Homo sapiens: one gene and its partner. The protein of the gene in region 2 interacts with the protein of the main gene of each other region in a biochemical or structural test. Each region holds a gene or a part of one and is shown on either strand. Other genes may lie near its edges.

The links. Proteins that work in one complex are often made in the same cells at the same time.
Region 1: the proteins of GOLPH3L (region 2) and FAM3C form a complex in vitro, tested with the Homo sapiens proteins (one study listed by BioGRID).

Annotation. Positions count from the first base shown.
Region 1 is NC_000007.14:121,389,809-121,393,308, reverse strand, and holds part of FAM3C (protein FAM3C precursor), read left to right. Parts: intron 1-381; exon of another isoform or gene 382-441; intron 442-1,947; exon of another isoform or gene 1,948-3,500. UniProt on the Homo sapiens protein: May be involved in retinal laminar formation. Promotes epithelial to mesenchymal transition.
Region 2 is NC_000001.11:150,690,655-150,694,154, reverse strand, and holds part of GOLPH3L (Golgi phosphoprotein 3-like), read left to right. Parts: intron 1-3,500. UniProt on the Homo sapiens protein: Phosphatidylinositol-4-phosphate-binding protein that may antagonize the action of GOLPH3 which is required for the process of vesicle budding at the Golgi and anterograde transport to the plasma membrane.

The sequences.
Region 1 (3,500 bases), on a different chromosome or scaffold from region 2:
TTTTATAATTTTTTTTCTTAAAAGACGGGATCTTACTATTTTGCACAGGCTGGCCAAATCTGCCCTCAGGTGATCCTTCGACCTCAGCCTCCCAAAGCTCTGGGATTACAGACATGAGCCCCTATGCCTAGCCAGATTTTCCATTTTAAAGTGTGGCATTTAGCACGTTCATGATGTTATGAACCGTCACGTTTCTAAAACATTTTCATCACCCCAAAAGGAAACCCCATATTCATTAAGCAGTTGTTCATTCCCTTCTCCCTGCCAATCCTCGGCAACCACTGATCTGCTTTCTGCCCCCATAAATTTATCTATTCTGGATTTTCCTAAAAATTGAATAATTCAATATGTGTTCTTTTGTGTCTGGCTTCTTTCACTTAGCATGTTTTAGAGGTTCGTCCTCTAAATCAGCAGGTATCAGTACTTCATTCCTTTTTAAGGGTGAGTAATATTCCATTCTATATTCCATTCATATACACCACATTACATATATATCATTTCGTTGATACGTACTGCATTTTGTTTATTCATTTGTTAAATTTTTGTGTGCTATTCAGAAAGTTATATGAACATCTCTAAATTGATTTTCGTCATAATCTCTACAAGGCTTGCTAAGGTAGTGTTATGGTGTCAGGTGTGCTACCTAACATATCATTCATTACTTGCAGTTAAGTGATTGTTAAATGAGTTTTGAAAGACGCAAGGTCAACAAAAATGGATTTTTAAGTTGGTTCAGTTGATACGTGGTGTGGTTTGGTTCTGCGTCCCCACTCAAATCTCATCTCAAATTGTAATCCCTGTGTGTCGAGGGAGGGAAGTGATTGCATCATGAGGGCGGCTTCCCCCATGTTGTTCTCGTGACAGTGAGTTCTTACAAGATCTGATGGTTTTACAAATGGAAGTTTTTCCTGCACTCTCTCTCTTCTCTCTCCTGCTGCCTTGTGAAAAAGGTGTCTGTTTCCCCTTAGCCTTCCTCCATGATTGTAAGTTTCCTGACACCTCCCCAGCCATGTGGGACTGTGAGTCAGTTAAACTTCTTTCCTTTATAGGTTACCCAGTCTTGGGTATTTCTTTATAACAGTGCAAAAACGGACTAATACAATACGTTTTCACAAAATTTTACAATAGAAGCATCTTTAGAGTTTATTTGAACAAACAATTCATGAATTGAGCAGCTCCAAACCAGATCTGGGAGCTCCACCAGGGGAATCCAGGAGGGAGGCTTTTATAGGAGGGTCACAGATGTAAAGCAAAGAAAATATTTGATTGGCTGCAGTTATACAGTTGTTTTATTTGGTCTGTCGTGTTGGAAGGTCCCCTAGATATGTAATTAGAAGTTTGTTGGATGTTTCTGATTGATTAAGCTTAAGTTCTCTTTTTCTTTAGCATAGGCATTTATAAGAAGTAACTTCATATTTTGCTTATGTTTGCAAATCAAGTGAGGTTGATGTCACTTATGAGGCCTAATTGGTTTTGTCTGCTCGGGGATTCTTCAGGCATGGTTTCCATTTTAATTTACTTCAGCAGTGCTAATTCTCATTCAGTTTTTGTGGTACAAATGGTGTGCCAATACTGCATTTCATCCAGGACCCTTGGGCGATGGAACCATTCTGTTTCTCCATGTCTTCATTTGGAGGGTGTGACTGATGGAATTATGTCTACCCTGGTGCACTTAAATTCTGCAGACTACTTCAAAACAGCATAAGTAGAGTGGATACCTAAGGGAATTCTTAAACACGTAGAACAGGAACCTATAACTTCTCATCTAGTACAATGTGAGATAGTTACATGAGATGAAGATAGCAGTTCTACTGTATGTAAATGTGTACCTTTCTCTAATCTCATTTTAGCAGTTTATGAGTGGGACACTTCATTACCCCATTTATGTTCAACCTCTAACAGTTAATATATTTCATTTTATTGTTGTCATTGTTTCTAAGAATAGCTATTTCTTTCTGTCCATCCATTCATTCATCTATCCATCTCTCCCTGGATGGTGTACTATAGGATTAAGGTAGCTTAGATCACAAGTGTTTAAACAATTGTAGAACTCATAGCAGGCAAAACTGAATGTCATTTTGTAGAGTTCTGTCTTGTTTTCTGTTTTGGGTATGTTTGTGGTCTTGGTTGCAGAAATCCAGTCACCATTTCATTTCGTTAAGTGGATTATAACTTTTTAAGCAAAATTCTGCTTTGGTAGATAATAAAAACTGCAAGAAAACATTTGAGTAATATTAAATCTAGTACTCTGGTTTAACCCCTGCAAACAGGAGTTCTTGATTATTTATTCCTCACCACATTTTCTCTGGATTTATCTGTTGCCCACCAAAACTGAAGACCCATTCTGGTGGCAGGTTGACTGTTCCAGAAAGAATGAAAAATCTTGTCATGTGAATTTTACTTTTGAACTTTTTTGGTTTAGATCTGCCTTACCTTCCCCCCCCCCCCCCCCCCCGCCCCACACAGCCTTTCCTGTGTGTGTGGATTGGTGTGCTGTAGATCTGAAGCTCTCAGATCTGAGCACGAATGACAGTCATCTGGGGAGCTTATTAAACATGCAAGAGCTTTAATCCCACTCCTAGGGATTCTGATTCTCCAGGTATGCAGTTGGCTCAGGAGTTTGCATTTTAAAAAACACACTAGTAATTCTGGTGTGCATGCTATAGGTAACCCTGTAGTAAGAGGTTCAAAGAACATATGATGTTTCATTGAATCTATGACGCCACAGATGGTAAGGGTCAGAATCTGGTAGCTTTCAGCTGCATGACTCCTAAGCCCTAATTTCCAATCTTGTGGCTAATTTGTTAGTCCTACAAAGGCAGTCTAGTCCCCAGGCAAGAAGGAGGTTTGTTTTGGGAAAGGGCTGTTACCATCTTTGTTTTAAACTATAAACTAAGTTCCTCCCAAAGTTATGGCCTATGCCCAGGAATGAACAAGGACAACCTGGAGGTTAGAAGCAAGATGGAGTTGGTTAGGTCAGATCTTTTTCACCATTTCAGTTATAATTTTGCAATGGTGGTTTCACTACTAAGAAATAAAAATGTGGTTGTAAGCCTTATCCTGAGTTTAGTTAAAATGAGGGAAGCAAGATGCAAAATGAGTTTAGTTAAAATAAATAGGGTATTAAGTGCCTGGCAACCAGAGGTTCCTCTTATTATCTTAACAGGTTATTATGAAGCATAGCAGATATGAGATTTTAAAAAATTACAAAGCAACAGTTCTTCAGATCTTTTACCATATAAATTATTTGATTGCAATGAGGAGTTTATATAAGGTGTCCTTAGTTGACATCTATTTGTAATGAAAATTGTACTGATGACTTTGTTTTAAAATGCAACTTAGGTGTATATGGGGGTGTAATAGACTCCAGTTTGGCCCCATATTAATTTCATCCTACTCATTTCCAGTCATTTAGATGTTGCTGGCTCAGTTCAGAAGTCTGATTTCTATCCTCCTTGTACTTCAGTGATTCCTGTTTTGTAATTATAGTCCACTGAAAT
Region 2 (3,500 bases):
TTACGCGGTGGCTCACGCCTGTAATCCCAGCACTTTGGGGAGCCGAGGTGAGTGAATCACTTGAGGCCAGGAGTTCAAGACTAGCCTGGCCAACATGGTGAAACCCCGTCTCTACTAAAAATAAAAAATTAGCCATGTGTGGCGGCGGGTGCCTGTAATCCCAGGTACTCGGGAGGCTGAGGCAGGAGAATCACTTGAACCTGGGAGGCGGAGGTTGCAATGAGCCAAGATTGCACCACTGCACTCCAGCCTGGATGACAGAGTGAGACCCTGCCTCAAAAAAAAAAAAAAAAAAAAAAAAAAAAAATATATATATATATATATATATATATATACACACACACACACACACACACATACATAAACAATTGAGGATTATTTTAATTTTTGAAAATTTTTAAAAATAATTTTAGCTTTTCTCTTTTTTCCCTAAATGTCTCCTTATTTAATGGAACATTTATTTTATAGTACAGTTAGTCTTAAGGTCCTGAGTCTTGTGATATAACCAGAAATTTCCCTGGCTTCTCTACTAGTATACATCATCATCCTTCATTTGTAACTTTTTGCTGTGTTTTCTCATCACACTATTCCCTCATGAAGAAGTTACGAAGGTAACATTTTAAACAATCTGCTTTCTTTCCAGGAAAGCCTTAAATAACCGCCCCCCCTCGCCCACCGCCTGCAAGAAAAGAAAGAGGTATATTTATTACTGGCCTCAGTTTTGAAAACATACAAAATTAGAATGTTATTTTAGATTTTAAAAGTACTAAATTTGGCTTTGATAATTATCCTTAGCTAGAAGTGAATTGGCTGCATACAAGTAGTAACAGCTCTTCTTTTCTACATAATTCTTCGACTTGGAAATACCATTGTTGTTTAGATTTTGCCTTTCATTTATTTACTATTTTCCTTTTTACTTTTTTTCTTGTTAAATTACCAACTTGAACAAAATTTACAGACCAGTTATAGTCTGTGTATTGTTAAAACTAATATTAGAGACATGCTTATGTGTACCTGGCCAAGATGTAGGTATATCAGAAATTCTTGCCCGGAAATATATTTTCCTGTTTGCTGAGAAGTTGATGAGCCTTCAGTTTTATAAAAGGCAAATAAACGAAAAGGCAAAACCAGCTCTCCAAGAGAATGTCAGAATAGGACTGAAGATTAGGTGATATAAATACTCTTTTGAGACGTTTACACATTACCTAGGAAACAGTCACTGACTGTATAAAAAGAGGATATAGAACTAAAAGCTATTTGGTTTGTTTTAGCTTTGAATAGGAATGATTAATTTCCTGCTGACCTTATGCACTGGAATTTTTGCTTTTGGGCTTGTCTTCATGTGTTTATAATGGTTAATATAAATTTTAGGAAATAGAATAAAAAATAAAGCAGCTCATTAAGAGCTATGGCCATGGTGAGTACTTAACATATTGGTGAGATACTGTACAAAATAAGCAGATGGCTGGATGCAATGGCTAATTCCTGTAATCCTAACACTTGGGAGGCCAAGGTAAGAGGATTGCTTGGGCCCAGGAGTTCAAGACCAGCCTGGGCAACATGGTGAGACACCATCTCTACAAAAAATTTAAAACAAAAAAATTAGCTGGACATGGTGGCACATGCCTGTAGTCCTAGCTACTCAGGAGGCTGAGTCAAGAGGATGGCTTAAGCCTCGGAGGTCGAGGCTTCAGTGAACCAGGATTGTGTCACTGCACTCCAGCCTGAACAACAGAGCAAGGCCTCAAAAAATAATAAATAATAGCACATAACAATTAACCACCTTTTGAATTGCTCTAATTTTATTTTTGAGGATAGTTAACAAATATTTAGCTTTCATTTGGCTCAGGAAGAATAAAAGACAATAAATCCTTAGGTGTAAATGAATAGAAGAGGTCAAACTTTGTGATTTATTTAAATAGTAGTAGTTACAAAAGGCCAGTTACATAACTATCTCTAAAAATATTAAATTGATTCCCAACTGTACTTATTTTTTTCTTATCTCTCAAACTATCAATAGATTCATTTAATCAATATTTAATGTGATTGAGGACACCCATTATGTGCTTAGGATTATGCTAAATATTAATACTAAGGTAAATATAAAATAGTATAGTATATGGTCCCTGCCTTCAAGAAACTTGCATTCTAGCTGGAGAGACAAAAAGATACATACTTTTTAAAAGTTAAGTAACCCGAAGGTCCATCAACAGCAGAATGGATAAAAATGAATCATCAAAAAAAAAAAAGAGTCATCCATTTGTTTAAATGAGTATAAATATGTTTTCTATACAGAATGAAAATGAACATTGTTATACAACATGTATATTTCTCACATTATGTTCAATAAAAAAAGCCAAACACAAAAATATACATACTGTATGATTCCATTTATATGAAACTCAAAAAACTATTGTATTTGAGGTTGCATATTTAGGTGGTACAATTATAAACAAAATCAAGCCAGGAATTACTATAGTTTTTAGAATAGTGATTATCTTTTTGTAAGGGATAGGGGAAGGAAAAGGGTGTTAGTAATTAGGAAGGAAAATGGAGAGGATTTCTAGATAGTAACAATTTTCTGTTTCTGGACCTAGAGGAAGTTTCATAGTTTTGTTTTTGTTTTTGTTTTTGTTTTTAAGACAGAGTCTTGCTCTGTCACCCAGGTTGGAGTATAGTGGCACCATCTTGGCTCACTGCAACCTGCGCCTCCCGAGTTCAAGCAATTCTCCTGTCTCAATCTCCTGAGTAGCTGGGATTACAGGCACCCGCCACCATGCCTGGCTAATTTTTGTATTTTTAGTAGAGATGGGGTTTCACCATATTGGTCAGGCTGGTCTTGAACTCCTGACCTCTCAGGCGACCCACCCAACTTGGCCTCCCAAAGTGCTGGGATTATAGGTGTGGCCTCCCAAAGTGCTGGGATTACAGGCGTAAACTACTGCTCCCGGCCTTTTTTATTTATTTATTTATTTTTGATACGGAGTCTTGCTCTGTCCCTCCTGGCTAATTTTTGTATTCTTAGTAGGGAAGGGTTTTCAGCATGTTAGCCAGGCTAGTCTTGAACTCCTGATCTCAAGTGATCCACCTGCCTTGGCCTCCCAAAGTGCTGGGATTACAAGCGTGAGCCACTGCACCTGGGCCATAGATCTTCACTTTGGAATAATTAAGCTTTTTACTTTGTTTTGTTTATTCTTCTGTGTGTACATTATATTTCACAATGCAAAATATTTTTTTTAAAGTAAACAACAATAAAAAGCAAGTTTTTGCATGTTAGAATGAGCCAAGGGAGTTAGAGAGAGGAGAAACCATCATGAGATAGAGTAATCCGGGGAAGAATAGAAAAAGGCAGTAAAACAAGCCATGCCTTTAAAAATGGGAGGATTAACATGAATGGAGAAAAGGAAACACGTTCTGGATGAGGGAACCTGAGTGAGCAAAGGTATCATGAGCTTGATGAGTTTGGGAGATAACTGTGAGTAGGCCAGTATGACTGAAGT